2 separate regions of the Homo sapiens genome follow, and region 2 is linked to region 1. Evidence: fine-mapped expression QTL. A gene starts in region 1. The other region holds a variant in brackets. All regions are shown on one strand. Distances are between the middles of the regions. Region 1 holds the start of IL16 (interleukin 16). Region 2 overlaps IL16 (interleukin 16).

The links.
Region 2: its variant is fine-mapped to the expression of IL16 in whole blood (TOPMed, PIP above 0.99).

Annotation. Positions count from the first base shown.
Region 1 is chr15:81,191,500-81,203,333 of GRCh38, reverse strand. It overlaps IL16 (interleukin 16), which reads right to left and starts at 6,455. Exons shown (of 19, transcript NM_172217.5): 1 at 6,182-6,455.
Region 2 is chr15:81,308,966-81,318,882 of GRCh38, reverse strand. It overlaps IL16 (interleukin 16), which reads right to left. Exons shown (of 19, transcript NM_172217.5): 19 at 4,825-9,917. STARD5 (StAR related lipid transfer domain containing 5) reads left to right here. Exons shown (of 6, transcript NM_181900.3): 5 at 381-474; 6 at 5,480-9,830. The coding sequence ends at 5,627. Among named protein-coding and RNA genes, the nearest start is that of STARD5, 10 kb to the left of the region's middle. RefSeq lists a silencer at 3,287-3,366 and an enhancer at 4,799-5,998. The variant G/A (reference allele first, on the strand shown) is at 5,612.

The DNA.
Region 1 (11,834 bases):
GGATCTAATTAAACTAAAGAGCTTCTGCACAGCAAAAGAAACTACCATCAGAGTGAACAGGCAACTGACAGAATGGGAGAAAATTTTTGCAACCTACTCATCTGACAAAGGGCTAATATCCAGAATCTACAATGAACTCAAACAAATTTACAAGAAAAAAACAACCCCATCAAAAAGTGGGTGAAGGATATGAACAGACACTTCTCAAAAGAAGACATTTACGCAGCCAACAGACACATGAAAAAGTGCTCATCATCACTGGCCATCAGAGAAATGCAAATCAAAACCACAATGAGATATCATCTCACACCAGTTAGAATGGTGATCATTAAAAAGTCAGGAAACAACAGGTGCTGGAGAGGATGTGGAGAAATAGGAACACTTTTACACTGTTGGTGGGACTGTAAACTAGTTCAACCATTGTGGAAGTCAGTGTGGCGATTCCTCAGGGATCTAGAACTAGGAATACCATTTGACCCAGCCATCCCATTACTGGGTATATACCCAAAAGATTATAAATCATGCTGCTATAAAGACACATGCACACGTATGTTTATTGGGGCACTATTCACAATAGCAAAGACTTGGAACCAACCTAAATGTCCAACAATGATAGACTGGATTAAGAAAATGTGGCACATATACACCATGGAATACTATGCAGCCATAAAAAATGATGAGTTCATGTCCTTTGTAGGGACATGGATGAAACTGGAAACCATCATTCTCAGCAAACTATTGCAAGGACAAAAAACCAAACACTGCATGTTCTCACTCATAGGTGGAATTGAACAATGAGAACACATGGACACAGGAAGGGGAACATCACACACTGGGGACTGTTGTGGGTGTAGGGAGGGGGGAGGGATAGCATTAGGAGATATGCCTTCCAAATTTTCTATAGTCCTTGATGATGCTAAATTTTCATCACTCTTCAAACCCTATTTTTGGATAACACTTCTTTAAAATGAAACCACAAACCAATACAGACCCCCAAAGCTGTCTGTGCTCTGAGAACAGGTTCTTCCACTACCAAAGCACTCATCTGATGCTACTCCAGTGGCTTGTGTCACCACTGGTCATGTCTACTGAACTCTAAGCTCCCTGAGGGCAGAGTCTGTCTGTCATATTTCGAGTTGATCCATGAGGCCTAGCTTGGCGAATGGCCTCTATCAATTGCTCAGTAAATATTTGTTGAATGACTAAGGATGATTGCATTTAATGTTTAAAGGTGTTCTCTGGCCAGATAAAATGTATAAAGTAGGAAAAGACATTTTACATACTGTACAACACCTTTGCTTGGGCTAATTCTTCTGGGGAACTAATAGTTCACTTAGTAACCCCATCTCTGGTTCAAATCTGATGAATTGCCTATGCTTACTTGCCTTATATTGTAAGTGATCATCAAGATACATGGAATACTGTTGAGATATGGAGAAGAATGAGGTTAAGTCTTTTTGTGCTACATAGAATTGGAAAACAAAACATGCTGCAGCACAGTGTGTGCGCGTGTGTGTGTCTGATGCTAGAATAAATCAGAGAGAATACTCAACAAGCTGTTATTGAAGAGCAGAGAATGGGTAAAAACTGATTACTCTACATTTTACTAATTACAGCATTTTTACCAAACACAAAATTTAATATTAAAGATTAAAATACAAAGTGGCAATATAATAAATTGCTAATAAATTTGTATACACCACTTAACTACAACCTAAAAAGAAAAAGAGGGAAAAACAAAAACCACAAACTTAAAACAAAGAAACCCAAAATATGATCTGCCTACTGGAAGAAATAGAAGTAGGAAAGTGGCTCAAAAAGTTGTTCGTGGATGAACAACTAAGATCTCCTTCCTGGAGAACTAAGGGCAGGGCCATTAAATTAGACATTTCGTGATCTCTAAATAGAACTGAGAGGAGATTCAAAGAAATGCAAAATAACAGCTATAGAGCATTATGGAGTCTTTGGCCTGAAAGAATTTTTCAGATTTTGATGGTCCAACTGCTGTCATTTACTTCTGTGTGTGTGTGTGTGGATGGGGGTGTGTGCGTGCATGTGTGTGGGTGTATGTGTGATTGCTTTGGCTTGAGTTTTGGTAAGAAATTACATATCATGTCTTTTAAGATTATTTTTAGATATATTTCTCTTTTTCACCACACATACACACACACACACACAGAGACACACACACACTTTTTATTTTCTGCTTCTGACAACTAGCTCAATGCAGGGGATGCATTGTCCTGCCACTGCTTCAGTAAATGTGACAGGTATCCTGTGTTCTCAGCAACTGCTGCAGGATTCTCTGGCATCTGCACTTTGGCTGGAGTTGGCTACAACCATCCTTGGAGGATGAGGAGAAGGAAGGAAGAGAGGGAAAGCGCATAAGACTGGGCCACCTGTCCACCTTCTCCAACCCTCACCATTGCTCGAGGCTCTCTTAATCCATTTATGAGGAGGTAAGTACAGAAAAAAAGACAGATGAGCTTATGGCTGACTCAGGCCTGAAATCCTTGCCTTGGATAATGGGAAGAAGGCCATCTTTTTGAAAGAGAAGATCAGGAATATTTCAGTTACAATACTCTCCTGACACATTTTCACCATTCCAAACTCCACCCAGTGTTCTACAGGACTATTTATGAAACTTTTAAAATCTTGACCTAGGCTAGGCATGGTGGCTCACGACTTTAATTCCAGCACTTTGGGAGGTTGAGGCGAGCAGATCACTCGAGCTCAAGAGTTTGAGACCAGCCTGGCCAACATGGCAAAACCCCATCTCTAATAAAAATACAAAAAATTATCCAGGTGTGGTGGCGTGTGCCTGTAGTCCCAGCTACTCGGGAGGCTGAAGGGGGAGAATCACCTGAGCTCACGGAGTCAAGGCTGCAGTGAGCCGGGATTGCACTGCTGAACTCCAGCCTGGGCAACAGAGTGAGACCCTGTTTCAAAAAATAAATAGATAAATAAATAAAAATAATTTTTAAAGAATTTTAAAAATTAAAAAAATCTTGACTTACCATAATAATTTACATTTTACATCATAGTACATGGATCACATACACATAAGATTTATATGTATACATAAATAAATAAATATATATAACTAAAAACTTTCATGAAACAATACCTTTACTACGGTATAATAAAAATAATATAAAATATCTTTGGTATGAAAAAGATAATATAAAATATGATTTTGCTAAGAACCTGATGCAATCTGATGTATGCTATTCTTTTTTTGTTTTAGAAAAAGGAAGTTGGTTCCAACCCGCTAAGTTGATTTTCAATCCACTAGTGGGTCATGCTTGAAAACCACTACTTTCAGGTTTTCTCTGATTTTTTACAGCAATTCCATATGGGGTATTTGCTTTGATTCCTCATTTAGCTCCCTTCTTTGGGCCACTGAATCTTGTCATATGTGCATTGATTTTGCCGCATTTGCTCAGCCCTACTCAAGAGGTCTGTGCTTACTCAGATTCGGGAGCTGGGATGAGTTCTGAAATTCCTCGTTGGAATCTTTCATATGCCGATGCCAGACTGCAGAAAGGGCTTAGATTTCCTGTGGCTTTTCTTTGCCAGGTGAGAGGTGCAGTGAGCAGCAGGGAAGGTGCACCATTCCCCAGCATCCAAGTTCTCAGGGGAGCCTTGAACCTTTGGAAGGGATGTTTGTAGGTGACCGCCTCCTATTGGCTGAGCAAGGTAGCCATGTCTTAGCTGCTGTAACTGTCCACTGGAGGAGCATTTCCATCCCAGCTGCACATGCCAAGACTCAGCCAGGGGCAAGACCGATGGAGATCTCCACGCGGGATCCCAGCATCGGGTCACTGTCCAGCATTACCAGTTGCTCCCACTCAAAGCAAACCTCTCCTCCAGCATCTCCAGATGTGGCAAGAACAGCGCCTCCCTCCTGATGGGCTCCGCCCTTCCACCCAACGTCCTTCACATCCACCTGAGACATCCACTGAGACTTCTCAGTGTTTCTGGCACACACTGAGCAACACTGTCTAGTTTACAAGACTGACATAGATTCGTCCTTATTTCAACAGGAATTCAAAAGAAGAACTTGAAGTAAATTCCTGATTTCAAGCTGCCTTCCTAGTTAACCACAACTCCAAGTTCTTGGAACTATTTGTTTATTTTGCCCCATGCCTATTTTCTCCCCGTGTTTATGAGCATATTGCTATTCACAATGAATTGCTTTTTAATAGCAAAACGTAACCTATATATGAAAATGTATTACCAATTCAAATGCACAATAAAAAATATGTATTTTATATATATATATATATATATATATATATATTTTTTTTTTTTGAGATGGAGTCTCCCTCTGTCACCCAGGCTGGAGTGCAGTGGCATGATCTCGGCTCACTGCAGTCTCCGCCTCCCGGGTTCAAGCAATTCTCCTGCCTCAGCCTCTTGAGTAGCTGGGATTACAGGCATGTGCCTCCACGCCTGGCTAATTTTTGTATTTTTAGTAGAAACAGGGTTTCACCATGTTGGCCAGCCTGGTCAGGAACTCCTGACCTCAAGTGATCCGCCCGCCTCGGCCTCTCAAATTGCTGGGATTACAGGCGTGAGCCACTGTACCTGGCCAGTAGATTTCAATTCAAAGTGTACCTCCCTCCCTCTCACTCCTATACCCCTGGGCCACTGCTGGGAACCAGAAAGGGGGAGGGGTTGACAAAAGGGCAGGTCTCAAGGTCCTGGTCTGCCTCTGCCAAAATAATTCTGCCTTAACTGATTATACATGAGTTTTCATGATAGATTTTAATTCTAAAAAGGTTTCCATGAATACAAACAATTAGAAAATAATAATTCTATAGTCAATTGCATCCAACAGAGATTATTTTTTAACCCTATGGATATATGACCATCTTTGTGTTGAGGAAACTCAAGTATTTATTGAGGCATGCCACAAAGCCAGTGAGAGCATGGATTTTGGAGTCAAGCTGGGTTTGGGTCCTGGGAACGTCTAGCTGAGTGGTCCTGTGCAAGCCTCCTCACCTCTCGGTTTGGGGATATACTCCCTAAGCTCCAGGTTGTTGTAAGGTTTAAATTAAATGAGGTATGTGAATATTTTAGCTTGGTGCCTGGGGCTTGAAGAGTGGCCAGGAAATGGTTGGGGTACTAAGTTTTATTTAAAAGACTCACTGGGGATTGAATAAATGAGCAGTAGAGGCTTCAAGGGTCTGACCCACCTGACGGCTCATGCCCACGTCATATCTGCAGCAGGGGAGGTGCCTTCTACTGTGCTCGTAAATGTTGACCATCACTTAACTTCAGGGTAAAGAAGGAGAACAGAGGAGGAAAAAGGCTGAACGGTCTTCTCCTTCCGGGGGAAACTGGAGAAATAGGAAGGGGAGCCACAGAGACGGCAGCTCCCAGGCTGCTTCCAGGAACCCAGTGGGAGCTTGAACTGGCCTCCTGGGACAAAGGGGTCGTCTTTGTATGGCTCAGCCTGAAGTGGGAGGATTTCACCTGATAAGGGCAGGAGGAGAAGATGCTTCCCTGTATTCCACAGGGAACCTCTATTCTTATGCTGTTACCTCATTCTCCAGCTACAGAAAGCAAACTTGCTATGGACCAAAAAAGAAAAAAACAAACAAACAAAAAACAAAAACAAAAAAACACCAATCCTGGGACCTACCAATGCAGGAATTAGTCACGGGACCCTTATCAAAAAGCAAGCAGAGTGAACACTTTTCCCATGGTCAATCTGCAGAGATGCCCACCCGCTGTGCCCACTTTGGAGAAAAGGAGTCTGGCCAGGCAGCAGAGAAGCCCCCATCAGGTGCCCCGTGGCCTTTCTCTCTCCTGCTGCCTTCCTTTCCTCCACCTCCTTCCACACCCCATTGCCAAGGATGAGACGAGGCTGAAAAGTCAGAAATCTCAGGACCAAATTCTCCCCGTGCTGCAGAGCCAGGTCAAGCGATATCCCTCTGCCCGCTCTGGCCTTCTGAAGCTGCTTCCTCCTGTACCTAACTGTGACATGGTGACACAGAGATTCCTACCAACACAATCCTGGCTTCTGCTCCTGCCCCTGACCCCAGCACCACTTCCAAATATGAAGTTACGTCCTAGCAACCAAGACCCTCCCCATTCAGGTCAGAGAGGCCAGCTTCCTCCCTCCGGTAACGGCCACCTGGACAGAGCAGCTGCCTGACAGACATTCACTCACCTGGTGCCCACCTACCTCCCTATGCACAGTCCCCCGGGGCTGCCATCTCCCTTGCTCCTCTCTCCATCTGCCCAGCAGGGATTGCAGCACCACTTATTCCCGGACAGCCTGTGGCCCAGGCCTGGGTCAGAGCCGGCAAGGATTGAGAAATGGACGCTCAGTTCTCAGACGGAGGCCGGCCTTTGAGTCAGATCCCAGGCTCCGATAGTTGAGATGCCGTGAGTAGGACACAATATTCACCACCTGCTCTGGACAGGTGACTCAGGACAAATGTGTCCCACCTGGCATGGATTTGCTCGAAGACTCCTGATCTGAGCCATCTGACTGCTCCACGTGAAAAGGCTTGATCCAAAAAGGGGGGCTGCCAGTGCTGAGAAGCTCAGCCTCAGAACAAGGTCCACCATCTGCTGGGCTGGCCGGCAACACCCAGGAGGCAAACCCAGTGCAGAGCCACAGAACCACAGTGAGGTTCCTTGGTCCAGCCCAGTTGCCCCTGCCTTCTTTGGACAACACAGAAATGACTAGGAGAGCCGAAAGGTAGCAGACATGACTCGGTGCCTGCAATGTGCCTGGCACGCTGCTAGGAGCTTTCTATAAACCTCATCACATGCTGGAAGCTGTGGCACGTGCCTATAATCCCAGCTACTCAGGAGGCTGAGGCAGAAGGATCACTTGAGCCGGGGGATTCAAGACAAGCCCGGGCAAACCATAGCAAGAACTCCTCTCAAATTATATAAAAATTTAATAAAAAGAGGAAAAAAGTCATCACATACAATCCTGCCATCAATCTGGTAAATATATCACCTGCTTTGCAGACAAAGAAAGCCACTGCACAAACGTTCATTAAACACCTACTACGTGCCGTGGAATTTCCCCAAGGTCACACAGTTAGCAAGTTAGCAAGTCAAAATCCACCTGTCTCCAAAGCCCAGGCTTTTTCCATAGCATTTCATTTCTTGTCTGTGCCACCCTTTCCCAAAAACAACAGACTGGCTCTCAGAAGCTTATGTAACTCAGTGGTCCTCAAGCCAGCTGCATCAGCAGCATCTGCTAGAAATGCAAGTTCTCAGGCCCTGGCCTAGACCTCCTGAAGCAGCACCTCTGGCACTCTGTTTTCACAAAGCCTCCAGGTGATTTTGGTGCGTGCTCAGGTGCGAGAGCCCATGACCTAACGTATACAGAGCATGTTGAAAACTGCAGCATAAAAGAATGGGGCACTTTTGTGTGTGTCCTGTTGGCATTAGTGTCATGAGACCAGAGTGCCTTTCCCCCACGTAGCCCCTTGGAGAATCTAATCATAAGGTGGCATTTAATCCATCTGCCCCGCAAAGAGCATCCCACACATCTCTCCTAAGCTCAGTCTCTGTGAGCCCTGTGTACATGCTAGGCTGAGGTTTTTGTATGGACCTCTCTTCTAAAGAATGGAATGTTTCCCAACGCTCAGCACCAAATGTTTCAGGGCTTCCTGGGGGCTTTAATGAGGGTGTAGGTGCAACCTGTAGGAAGCCCTTGAAATTCCATGCAAGGCTGCAAAGATCTAGCCGCTGCTGCTGGAGAACACAGGCCCACGGTCCCAAGGGAAGCACGGGAGGAGGGAGCACTCTGGGGATAAAGCTGCCTTTGTCAGCAGGCACAGGGGACATTGTAGGGCTGAGTCTGGAGTGAGTCTGGAGTGCAGTGAAGGAATTTCTAAATTGCAGAGAGTGAGCGCCTCTGTCAGTGTCGCCTGCTCAGCTCACACCCACAATCTCTCTCACAATGGCCTGGGTGCGGTGGGGCCAGGACAGACTCAGGCCCCACTTCCATCTTGCTCTGGCAGAGAGGCTGAGGAGCAATTCAGCACCCCAGGGCTATGGGGGCTGGCCTTGCCCTTCTTGGATCCTGAGGCCTGGGAGGGCCCCACAGCCCCCCTCCTCCACTAAGTCTAAGCTCTCTCTTGTCATCGGCACCTGAATCCAGTTCCCGCCTCTCCCTCTATTTTCCGAAGATCTGTTCTTTCTCACTCTCAGAAGGTAAATTTATTCCAAAGTGTAGTTGAGACTTGGCCCTGATTTTTCCTAATACGGGGTGGTTTGTGCTTCAAGGTGGAAATTTTATCACCCCTCTGCCCTTCAGGACATCCTGCAGAAAGAGTCTCCACCCTGCCCAACACTCCATAGTCCAGCTCACTGCAAGCCAGAAGAGACGGGGAGGAAGACGCAGGTGAGAGAGCCCCGCCCTGGTTAGAACTAGGAAGTTCAAGCACCACTTGAAGCTCAACCAAGAGCTTCCTGTGTGATCTTGGTCATTCACAGCCTTAGTTTGCTACGATGAAAATTAGATGAAATTAATTGTCTGCCAGATGAAATTAGAAACTTCTACTGCACAGTGTTACTGAGAGAATGAGGCAATAGAGGAGGAAGCATGCTGCCAACAGCTAACCAAGCAGAAGCCTGCTCACCTTTTTGGCCCTTCCAGCCCACGGAACTGAGAAATCTGTTCAACAAGTGATTCTGATGCTTGCTAAAGTTTCATAATCAATAACCTGTATTTCCTTCTAATTCTCCTATTTTTTAATTACAAAATTTTATTTCCAAAAGTAAATTTTTAATTACAAAAATTTTAATTACAAAATTAAAATTATAAATTTTGAAAAATTAATTTAAAAAATTTTAATTTTAAAAATTCTAATTTAATTTTTAAAAATTAAAATTACAATTACAAATTTAAATTTAATTTAAAAAATTAAAATTACAAAAATTTTTAATTTCAAAATTTTAGTTATAAAAGTAATACATGTTTGTTGTGGCAAGTAAACATATTCAGAAGGCAAAAAGAAAGTGTGTCCTTAAAATGACACAACAGGGTCATCTCCTATTCTGTTCAAACAATGGCAAAATAAAGAGCTTAGGGTCAGAGCAATAAGCCCCAGCTTCTGTACTAAGCGGCTCTGTCAACTGCAAGTCCTTTTACCTTACTGAGTCTCAGTTTCCATGTCCACAAAATGGAAACAATAACCCAATAATCTGACAGGGCTGCTCAGAGGTCTGAGCAAAGAGCTGTCCTGCAATCTATAAAATGCCTTGGGAATTCTTTATGCTGTACACTTTTGGTCATGCGAACTGTATTATCATGAGCAGAATATAATTTAACAATTTTAACTAGTAATGTAACAATTTTAACTAGTAATGTAACATGACGCAGAATATAATTTAACAATTTTAACTAGTAATGTAACAATTTTAACTAGTAATGTAATGTTACTAGTAATGTAACCTGACAGTAATGGACATGATGATAATAAATTCTCTCTGCATTTAGCACTTTCAACTTAGACAGAATGTTGAGGCCAAAACTTGATGATTTTATTGTACGTCCCCACTTACGGATGCAAACACTGAGACTCAGAGAAGTTACATGTCCAAAAAGTGCACGTCCAAGGCTGTGCAGTCAGAAGCCATTGGTCCCTTGATTCCCGCTCCCCGGCTCTCTTCCCCTCTTTCCCTGGCCCACAGCAACATATAGATTCAAACCAAGGGTTTTAACTTCATACGAAAATTCTAGCTGACTTCCATGTAGACCATGCTGCCCTCTCTCTGGCCTTTTTTTCTTTCAAACTGTCCATCAGGCTTGCATCCTTTCAAAGTAATATTCCATCACTAAGATACTTACAATCACGACAAGCAACTGAAGCCAGTCCACAAGCAAATATACCACGCACATGCCAACAACTCCCAAATTCACTTCTCCAGGCCTGGACTTCTCCTTGAATTCTGACTCTTTTTTCCTACCACTTGCTTAACATCTTCAGCTGGGGTTTAACTTAAATTTCAAAAGTAACATTGCCTGGCTGTTATTCAGTGAGGCAAAAAAAAGGAACACTGCCAACAGTACTCTTGATTCCCCCCCTAATAAAATGTTTCTTCCCTAAACTTCCACATTTTGGTAATTGTCACTAGCATCCATCAATTTCCCAAGCCAAAATCCTCAGTATCAAGGTGGGAAGAACATAGCACAGGCTCTGAAGCCAAAATTCCTGGGTTCATCTCGCAGGTCTGTCCCTGCCCAAGTGCATGATCATAGGCAGGCAAAAAGGCACTTCTCTGTGGACTGGTTTTGTCATCTATAGGCTGGCTAGTGCACTAACATCCACCTCACAAGGTTTGTTTGGGCTAAATATGGTAATACTTGTAAGGTTCTTAGAACAGTGCCTGCCAGAATAAGCCCTCTGTGAGTTTTTATTCATCTTGATCCCTCCATCTCTCTAACCTTCCACATCACATCCAATTTATCAGTGATTCTCGTTGGCTCTATCCCCAGAAGCTATCCCACTTTCTTTCCGCTTCTCTCCATCTTCACTGCCGCCACCCTCCTCTTACCAGTGCCTCTTGTCTGATTATAGCTTTCACCTTCTAACTGGGATTCTGGTTCCTATGCAGACCTTCATAATCCATTTTTCACATAATAGCAGGTAGGCTTTTTGAAAATATAAATTGGATCAGCATAAAATTTGCAAGGGCTTTGAATTACTTTTAAAAACTGTTTTTTGTTTGTTTGTTTGTTTTTGAGACAGCATCTTGCTCTGTGGCCCAGGCTGCAGGGTAGTGGTATGATCATAGCTAACTGCAGCCTTAAACTCCTGGCTCAAGCAATCCTCCAGCCTCAGCCTCCCGAGTAGCTAGGACAACAAGCACATGCCACCACATTTGGCTATTTTTTCTTTTTTCTTTTTTTTTGTAGAGACACGGTCTCTCTGTGTTGCCCAGGCTGGTCTTGAACTCCTGGCCTCAAGCAGTCCTCCTTCCTTGGCCTCCCAAAGTGCTGGGATTATAGGCATGAGCCACTGCACCCAACCACTTTTTTAAAAATTTAATAAACTTTATTGTTCTGAGCAGTTTTAGCTTTACAGAAATATTGCATAGAAAGTACAGAACTCCCGAATACTGATCTCCCTCTCCACACACACAATTTCCCATACTATTAACATCTTGCATTGGCGTGGTACCTTTTTACAATTGATAAATCAATACTGATACATGATTATTAGCTAAAGTTCATGGCTTACGTGATGGTTCACCCATTGTGTTGTGCAGTTCTATGGGTTCTGACAAGTGCATAGCGTTATGGATCTACCACTGTAGTATCAGACAGAGAGATATATTTACTGCCCCAAAAATGCCCTGTGCTCCACCCCTTCCAAAGGCTTTGCGTTGTTTTCCAAAATAATACCCAAATTCCTTACAGTGTCCCAAAGGAGCTAAATGATCTCACCCTTGTTTATCTCCCAAACTCCAGCTTCCACCTCTGCCTCTCCTGCTCGCTGCATCCCACAGCCACCCTGGCCTTCTGGCTCTTTCTTGAATAAGCCATGCCCTTGTCACCCTAAGACTTCTGCCCTAGCTGTTTTCTCTTACAGGAAAGTTCCACTTCCAGATCTTCATATGGCTGGCTCTTCCCTGACTCCATCTCCTAAGTGGGATCTTTCTTGACCACTCAACCTAAACCAGGCACTCACCGTTACCTCTCCTTATTTTATTTTCTTCATAGAACTTGCCAGCATTTGAAGCTGTCTTGTTAGTCTGCTTGGGTACTTACATACCACCCATCCGCCCCATCTAGGTCCCACACAGGGACCTCATCAGCCTGTTCACTGTGGGGTCCCCAGCACTAGAGC
Region 2 (9,917 bases), 120 kb before region 1:
TGGCTGAGATTTGAGAGAGGCACCTGCCTCCTCCCATGACCAAACCTTGTGTTCTAGAATGTTCTTTTCTCTGATATTCTTGACAAGCTTGGGAAAGCTATGTGCATGTTTATGTGTGAATGTGGATGAGTGAGTGTGTGTGAGTGCAAGTGTGTGTGTGTCTGTGTGTGAGTTTGTGTACACGCATGTGAGAGTGTATTTGTATGTGTGAGTGTAAGGGGCAGTAGGGTGGGAGTAGGGGGAACTCACGCCAAGAGGCAGGAGTCCCTCACAGACTCCAGGGCTGCAGGTAGTCTGGTCTGTGTGCTCTATGGCACCCCAATGGCAGTGACCTGACCGTCTGAAGTTGTAACTCACCGAGATTCTGCACTGTCTTCCAGCCACCCATGTGGAGCATCCGTTATGTCCCCCGAAGCCAGGTTTTGTGAGAGGATTTAACCATCCTTGTGGTTGCTTCTGTGAACCTCTTCCAGGGTAAGGATAATTTCCTGCATTGAGGTACATGGCTCAGACCTAACTGTGACTTCCCTGTGGACCTTCTGTGAAAAGGGGCACTTTGACTACGATTCAAAAGAAGAAAAATGCCTTATAGCTCTTTAGATTGTGACGATACAAAATACTTTCACACACATCTGCATAAGCAGAACCTCCTGAGAGTACCTGGCATGTGGGAAAGAATTGAGGGGAGGCGTTACTCTTATTTTTGATGCAGGAAATTTTCCCTGCAGCCTCCAGGTTAAGCAAATGTCATGGTCCATTTAGCAAATGAGGAAACTGAGGTTTGGGGAGGTTCAGTGATGTGTCCTGACTCAAAGGCTAGGAGGTTGGCAGGGCAGGGTCTGTGCTCCGAGTCCTCCCTGAATACCCTCCGCCAGGCAGGAGCAGCTTTGAGGATAGCAGTCCCCACCCCACATTTCACTCAGTGATCATCTCTCCTCGGCAAGGAATGTGGCGGAACTCAGGCCTAAAGGGCAGTTCTGAGACCACACTGTAAGTCAGCCTCAGAATTGACCCCGGGGACTCTCTGTTCCCATTTTGCCACAGGTCATGGCCAGGCTCTTGCCAGGAAATTTCTGTGTAATGAATTACCTGAAGGTCCCTTGTTTACCCTGGGAATCATGCATGTTGACAGCAAAAGAAACTGTGCCTTGCAGGTGTGTCCCGGTGTTCCCTGCAGTCTCCATACAGACACCCGGAGGGAAGGGGTCTGTCCTTCTACCACATTGTCCCAGGAGGTGGGCCTCGGTGTCGTGGGATTATACCAAGCCCAGACCTAGCACCTTTATGTTACCCTCTTTGCTAAGCTGGCTTTTCAGACATCATGTGAAGACTTTTCTTAGATGTAACAAAATTTTGAGTTTGAAAATAGCACAGCTGTGCTCTACCACACACAGACATACACACCTGCACTCAGTTTCAGTTCTCCCAATATATAGGTGCCCTGGATCCCCTGGCCTGGGCTCATTTCCTTGTCCTCTCCCACCTGGTAGTCAGATGCTAAGACTCACCTTTCAGTGGTGCCGGGTCTGACAGAGAGGAATTTTCAGAATAAGAGGCAGAGTCCTTCCTTCTGAGGGGCTGAATCCCATTGCTGTCTTCTTTTTGGTGGAATGCACAATATAATGGGTAGCATCACGCCCTCATGCCAGGTAGCAAAGGTATCACATGGATTTTTTTTTTTTTTTTTTGAGACGGAGTTTGGCTGTCACCCAGGCCGGAGTGCAGTGGTGCAATCTTGGCTCACTGCAACCTCTGCCTCCCAGGCTCAAGCGATTCTCCTGCCTCAGCCTCCCGAGTAGCTGGGATTACAGGTGCCTGCCACCATGCCTGGCTAATTTTTGTATTTTTAGTAGAGCCGGGGTTTCACCATGTTGTCCAGGCTGGTCTTGAACTCCTGACCTCAAATGATCCCCGTCTTGGCCTCCCAAAGTGCTGTGATTACAGGCGTGAGTCACCGCGCCTGGCCCGATTGCATGGATTTTGCTGAGAGGGTGGTTGGGGTCCCACAAAACCCTGCCCATATGAAGGTTTTAACTCAAGTGTTGACTCTTCCAACTCCTCTCCACTTGATTAAAAACATCACGTGTTCTCTGTAAAGCTTTCTTCCAGAGCCTGCTGTGTGCAGTTATTCTCATGAGGCTGTGGATCTGAAATCTGTGACAATGATTATTCTCTTATTATTCTGTGAAGATAGGCCTATTCTGGACCCTAGATTCAGCAGACAATAATAACAGCAGCAGCAGCAGCAAACATTTATACAGCATTACTGTGTGTCAGCCACTATTGTAAGCACTTCATATAAATTAACTGTTTTTATAACAACCGTAAGGCACTGTTGTGATCCTCATTTTTAAAATAAGAATGGTGGGTGCACAGAGAGGTTTAGTAACTAACCCAAGGTCACACAGCCAGCAAGTAAGAGAGCCACAGTCTCATTCTGGCCATCTGGCTCCAGAATCTGGGCTCTTAACCCAGATATTGATGTCTCAAAACAGCTAGAGTGTCTGCCCTCTTAGAACTTAGATTCCAATGAAGGCAGGAGGAGACAGACAAAACACAAATGTAAGTAGTTCTATCTCGTGGATGTGCTAGTAAGTATCAGACGTTAAGTGCCTTGGGGAAAACTAAACCCAGATAAAGGTGCCAGGGAAAGGTGTGAGTGGGTTATCTAGGGGGTTTCCCTAATAAGACGTTTGAGCAAGGCACAAATGCAGGGAGTCTTGGGCGTGTTGGTGGAGCGAGCATTCTGGCAGGGGGATGAGCAGATGCAAAGTCCCAGAAGTGGGAGCAGGAGCCGGAGCAAGAGCGGGGCCTTTGAGGAACAGCACAGAGGGAGGTGTTGTGTTAGCAAGAGGAGAGGCTAGGACATTCGGCCCATGAGGTAGCAGGGGCCGCAGCCTGTTGGGGACTTTCCTCTGAATAAAATGGGAAGCCACTGGGGAGGCCTGAGCAGGACATGGTCTGACTTTGGTCTTAACTGCTATGATGCCCTGCTTCCCCAAAGAGGGTGAACTCCAGGGGACAGGGACTTCCTTCCATCTCAAAGCCTTAGCATCGTCTGCACTCCACCCTCTCCCTCACCCACCAACCCCTGCCCATCCCGCCTTTGCTAGGGCCTTCTCTCTCCTCTTGCTCTCTTGAGTAAGAGGCTGTGAGCAAGAGGGCAAGAGGACTCATTGGGGGTGAGGTGGTGTTGAGGCCAGAGGTGGTGGTGGTTGAGCTCCAAGTGGCGCGGGGGGCGGGGGAAAGGTGTTCTTAAGGTGGAGGAGCCTGTATCTGTGGTCGAGGCAGCATTACAGTGTCATTTCTGGAGCACTTGCACTGTGCACAGGAAGGATGCTAAGTGCGTCACACCTACTCTCATTAAATCCTTCTAGCAACCGTAGTGGATGCCTTCATCCCAGCCTTTTCTGAGGGGAGACTGGGTGACCTACAATTCCTCTGTGCCCCCTTTTGCCCTTTCTGTTGTTGTCACATAATGGTGTACATGCAAGAGCTACCACTCACCAAGGCCACTGTGACGAAGAGAGTTTGTCCCATCCCACATGGCCTCTCACACGTTCCGCCCACCACAAAGCCCATTCCTCACCCAGAGGGAAACATGATCACGGAGTCTCATTTCTCACTCACCTGTTCATGTTTCCAAAGAGGATGCTGCTGAGAGGTGATGCGGGCCAGAGGAAGCCCATTGGGAGGAGGAGCAGGGAGGAGAGAGAAGGCTCTAGCAGAGGCGGGATGGGCAGGGGTTGGTGGGTGAGGGAAAGGTGGAGTGCGGATGATGCTAGGACTTTGAGATGGAAGGAAGTCTCTGTCCCCTGGAGTTCACCCTCTTTGGGGAAGCAGGGCACAAGCAGAGGAGAAAAGCCACAGCCCAGAGGAGCACATGCTCTCCCACCTTGTGGATCTGCTGGCCCCATCCTGTTCCATGCCCCAGTTGTCCTTCTGTATGACTTGAAGAGTGAGATTCTTTTTTTTTTTTTTTTTTTTTTCTTTTTTGAGGTGGGGTTTTGCTCTTGTCACCCAGGCTGGAGTGCAATGGTGTAATCTCGGCTCACTGCAACCTCCGCCTCCCAGGTTCAAGCGATTCTCCTGCCTCAGCCTCCTGAGTAGCTGGGATTATAGGCACCTGCCACTATGCCTGGCTAACTTTTGTATGTTTAGTAGAGATGGGGTTTCCCCTTGTTGTCCAGATTGGTCTCGAACTCCTGACCTCAGGTGATCCACCTGCCTCGACCTCCCAAAGGTGCTGGGATTACAGGCATGAGCCACCGTGCTTGGCCCTGGGGAGTGGGATTCTAAAAGGTCTCCAGTTCCAAACCTGTAGCCTGCATGATGTCAGGAAACATCTGATGGGCAGGCATAGTGCTACCTGGGGTTCCTGGTGAGGCTGAGTGGACAGTTGCATTCAAGTAAAATGCCAAATGCACACCACAAAGCCTATACCACCTTTGTTGTCCTGGCCGTTGAGAAGTTTGTCACAGTGAAGATCGCTTCCTGTCCCTACCAAGTTGTGTTCCATCTCCACATCGTGTGCCCCTTTGATTCTGGACTTCCAGTCAGCATCTGTGCCACCTGCCGTCCTCTGAGCTTCTGCCACCCCTTGGCCAAAATCCCTTCATAGGTGCTCAAATTATTCGCCAGTTCTCTAAATAGCAGTTCTCAAAATTTTGGCATAAGGCATTATTATACCCTTACATATATTTGAGGGCTTCATAGGGCCTTTGTTCTTGGGGGTTATAGCTATCATTATTTGATGTATTTGAAATTGTAACTGGTAAATTTGAGAAATGTTAAAAATATTTTAACATAAAAATGCACTGCATGTTAACATAGATAACATTTTTATTTTAAAAAACTATTTTTTTAAAACAAAAAATACTGTGAAAAGAGTGGCATTGTTTTTATATTTTTGCCCATCTCTTTCATGCCAGGCTTAACAGAAACTCATACCTGCTTGTGCGTGTAGTCTGTTGCAATATCACATATCATGTAACCTCCGGAAAACCCCACTGTATGCATGTGAGAGAAGGCGAATCACATGTTCGTGTTGTTATAAAAATAGTGTTAACTTTGTAGACCCCTTGAAAGGGTCCCAGGAGCCCCCAGGAGGTTGCAGACCCTAAATAGTGAAGGGCAGCATCTCTTCGTTCCTCTCAGGGCCTGGCACAAAGTGAGTTCTCTGAAAGCATTTGCTGAGTGAATCGGGCAGCAGGGTACTGGGTTTTTGGGCTGGGAGTAGGGACTTCTTCCTCCCTGGAGGCCGGGAGAGGCTGTGGAATGCATCCCCGACAGGATGGGTTTCCATCCTGAAAATCAGCAGGTCCAGAGAGGACTCCTGGGTGGAGGGCACAGCAAGGGATGAGACGCGATCACTGTATCATGGCCATTTCCACTGGGCTGGGCTCTGCTCACCTGCCTGGCGCTCGTCCCCAGCACCTCTGCTGCAGATCATAACACAGCTCTGCTGTTGCCTTCACAGGGAACCCACCAAGACCAACCTGGTCACATTCTTCCATACCGACCTCAGCGGTTACCTCCCACAGAACGTGGTGGACTCCTTCTTCCCCCGCAGCATGACCCGGTTTTATGCCAACCTTCAGAAAGCAGTGAA[G/A]CAATTCCATGAGTAATGCTATCGTTACTTCTTGGCAAAGAACTCCCGTGACTCATCGAGGAGCTCCAGCTGTTGGGACACCAAGGAGCCTGGGAGCACGCAGAGGCCTGTGTTCACTCTTTGGAACAAGCTGATGGACTGCGCATCTCTGAGAATGCCAACCAGAGGCGGCAGCCCACCCTTCCTGCCTCCTGCCCCACTCAGGGTTGGCGTGTGATGAGCCATTCATGTGTTCCAAACTCCATCTGCCTGTTACCCAAACACGCCTCTCCTGGCAGGGTAGACCCAGGCCTCTAACCATCTGACAGAGACTCGGCCTGGACACCATGCGATGCACTCTGGCACCAAGGCTTTATGTGCCCATCACTCTCAGAGACCACGTTTCCCTGACTGTCATAGAGAATCATCATCGCCACTGAAAACCAGGCCCTGTTGCCTTTTAAGCATGTACCGCTCCCTCAGTCCTGTGCTGCAGCCCCCCAAATATATTTTTCTGATATAGACCTTGTATATGGCTTTAATGCCGCAAAATATTTATTTTTCCTTAAAAAAGGTGTCAACTTGGAAATAATGGTTTAAAAACAGGATAAGCATTAAGGAAAAACACTTTCAATGTGTCTTCCATTTGATGAATTTGTTTTTCTCTCTTTATCCCCGCAAGGTGGAGTTTCATGTCCTCGGTGAAACCAGACAGTGTGAATCTGTTCCAGCCCAAATCTGCAGCATTAGGGATGAGTTCTCAGAAGTGATTCTGAACTGAGCACGCACTCATGTCTGCATGGGGAACTCTGGGGAGAAGAGCCTTCCTTTTCTTTCCCTTGGGCATTTGCCTTTCCTTGTCGTCTTACTGAGGCGGAGGCAGGAGGTCTCTGTCTTCCAGGCCCTGGCCAGGCCATCCTGCCATCAGGAAAGATGGAAGAGTAGGCCTCCGTCTAGCAGCCCTGGCTGGAAATCCCCCCTCTAGATCCTGCTGCAAGACTGTACAAACTCACAGGGGCCATGTCCACCCAGGCACATCATCAGAACCAGGGAGCACAGCCTTGCCACCTAGAAGGGGCCTCAGCAGCCGTGCAACTTTCTTTCCCTATCTCCAATCCAGAGAGGGATCCTCTAACATTCTCTAGCAACCTCATCTGCACCCCCACCACCTTCCTTGTAAGAAAGACCACGTGTGACTAAAATCCCTTCACGCTGCATTTACCCAGGTTACTATTGTGCGCGCAAAATGTTTTCACAGTGTTCTCAGCCTTTGCTCCTCCAAACAGAAAACGTTTCCCCTGCGTTACTGTTACTTCCCTATTTTTGAGTCCTGGGGTGACTGTCTCTTAAATGTGCCAAGATGTGAGCAAGCTTTAAAACATGACAGCTCAGTGTTAAGGAGACAGAAAGCTTCCTCTTTCTCTGTTCTATTGCAACTACAAATTCTACAGTCATGCCTAAGATCCTTTAGCTAACACCCTTTTCAAGAAATCATCAGACTCTTGGATTGACTTAGAATTCATTCATTCATTAAGTGCTTACCGAGTCCCCGCTCTGTGGCAAGCACTGTTCTATATCAACTTCTCATGAGTTCAGCCAATTCTAGGTGCACCAGCCAAGGAAACTTCATGCCTGCCCTCTCTGAGCTCCATACTCTGAGGTGGTGGTCTTATCAAGATGGGATCGCCTTGTACATCCCTGTGTAGCCAAGTGGAAGGCCAGCCAACCAAGAATGCATCTCACTGGGCCTATGGGACATACTGTGCCTGCACTGCTCCTCCACGTGACTGCATCAGGTTAAACTGGTCAGAGCCCTGGATGAGGAGCTGGAAAACATGCATCCAGTCCAAGCTCTGCCACTTGGGCCAAGTGTGCTCTTGAACAGTCACTTAATATATCTGCTTTGATTTGTCTTTTAAAGAAAATATGGAGGCAGGAATACCAGTGTCAGTGTAGCCTGCTTCTTGAGTGTTGGCACAAGTGAGATAATGTATGAATCAGTAAAATGCTGGGCAAAGCAAAGAAGTAGGGCTGCCTGGGAGTGGATTCCTTTTTATGGTGAGTTAAGACGACTTCACAATTGTTAGCTGTGATGCCTGCAGTGTTTGAGGATGGCATTGCCTTCATCCTGTGTCAGCTCTGAAGAAGTTGGCAGAGCAAAGCTAAGCCTCAAGTGTAAATCCCAGCATCATGGAACGCAAATGGATGAGCTTTTGTTTTAGGATCTTCTTGCTGATTCCTACCCAGAGGACTTCCCCAGCCTAGAGACCAGAAACCTGGGCAATAGTTATATCTTCAGTGGCCCTAGGAGTTGTTGTGTCTCCTTGGGGAGGAGAGAACCTTCTAAAACAGGCCAGAGACAGGAGGTACTGGGAGGGCCATGGGCTCACCTGCATCTATGCCCAGATAACCTGGGACAGATAACCTCTGTCCCAATCACTTGCTTTGCCTGGTCTCTCAAGGAGTCTCTTGGTACCCCAGGCCCACGGCCAGCTCCATGCTCATCCCTGTCCCCACCTTCCAGTCTTGATGAAAACCCACCTTCTCTTTCATCCCTTGGCTGCTTGATAAGACTTAAAACAATTCCCTGATTTTAGGGAAGGCCACTGCGTGCACAGATGGTGAGTTTGTGCAGGCAAGGAATGTGCCCTCCACATCACGTGGCCTCCTTGCCCAGCCTGGGTCATGGGAAGGGAGTGTTGAATTGAATCACGTCTTTCGTTGGTAGATTATGTTCATCTTCAATGTTTCTATTAAGTCTAAAAAGTGGATACAAATGGTGCCTCCAAGTTCTTGTCTAATTGCTTGTCTACTGCTTGACAAAATCCAGAATGGAATAGGCCAAACAAGTTAACCAGCAGGACAGAAACTGCTCTAAGCCCATTATTCCTTGAGATGAATAGAACAGTGAGCTGAACGCCTGCTCTAATGAAGCCACTAAAGGGGTTTACAGGAAGGTTAGGAGCCCAGATGGGTTTTGAGTCCACTGCTGGGAAACAGATTCTTCACTTCCTGTGGACCCTGGAGAAGCCATCAGATTACATTAACATGGCTCCACTGATGATGGCCTGAGAATTACTATTGTTTGTGTTTCATCTGTGTCCTTGCCAGGTCTTCCCCCACATCCTTACTTCACAGGATCAGGGGCTGAGAGGAGACCAATACTCTGGCCCAGGCCTGGTCAAGGGATGCTGGTTGTTGCTGATGCAAAGTCACATTGCCTGGTCCTGAGCTTGGCAATCAGGCATCCAGAGATGGCCAAACCAAATATCCCTTTGGCCAGGCACTCAGGCATTCCCTGTAATGTTGTGCACTTAAAGCATCTTGGGCTGATAGTCTCCACCGAATCACAGAAGAAAACTCAATCTGCCGCATCACTCACCAGCTGGATAAGCCATTTACTGTACACAGTGTGTGCCCTCTTATCAATACATTGGCACAGAACCATACACCGTAGAAGCTGCTGTGATCACTAAAGGCAATGCCCGTTTAGCCCTGAGCACAGTGCTTGGCATGTGGTAGGTAAGTAGTAGCAATTTTATTTGATACCCTCATATACACGCTGGTTCCTTCTGTCGGCACACCTGTCCACGCTTTGAGCTTGGTGCTTCACCTGTACTCCTCTGTTTACTGGCTCCACCACCCTTCCCTAGGATTACTTCTCCAATCCAACCAAAAACAATTTTGCAAATGTTTCATGTGACAAACTGTATTTTTCATAAATGACCCCAGCAATATTTCCTCTCCCCTTAAACCCAGGCAGGTTTGTGTCAGCTCTAACTGATGGAGTATGGTGGAGGTGATGCCATGCAACTTCCAAGGCAAAGGTATAAACAAGATGCAGCTTCTACATGGCTCTTGCGATCCTGGGATGCTCATCCTGGGAATCCAGACACCATGTTGTGAGGAGGCCCAGGCCACAAGGAGAGGCCACCTATAAGCATTCAGGCCAGCAGCCCCAGGTGAGTTCCCAGCCAACATCAACGGCCAGATGTATGAGTGAATGATCTCACGTGGTCCCAGCCTTTGCATGACTTTGCATGACGCCAGCTGATGCCAAGTGGGACAGAGATGAGCTGCCCATTCCAATCTCTGCCCACATTGCAGATTCATGAGAAAAATAAATGTCACTGTTTGGGGGTGAATCATGACACAGTTACAGTACTTGAAACATTTTGCGAAGCCAGGCATGAATGTCATATGAAATTCTAATAAATCCATTTTATTTGTGGCACCACAATATTATCATTAAGCTCTCTTTTTACACAGTCTGCAATTTGTATCAGCTGCCCCCGTGTGACTCTGCCCTTATTTTAGGAACAACCTT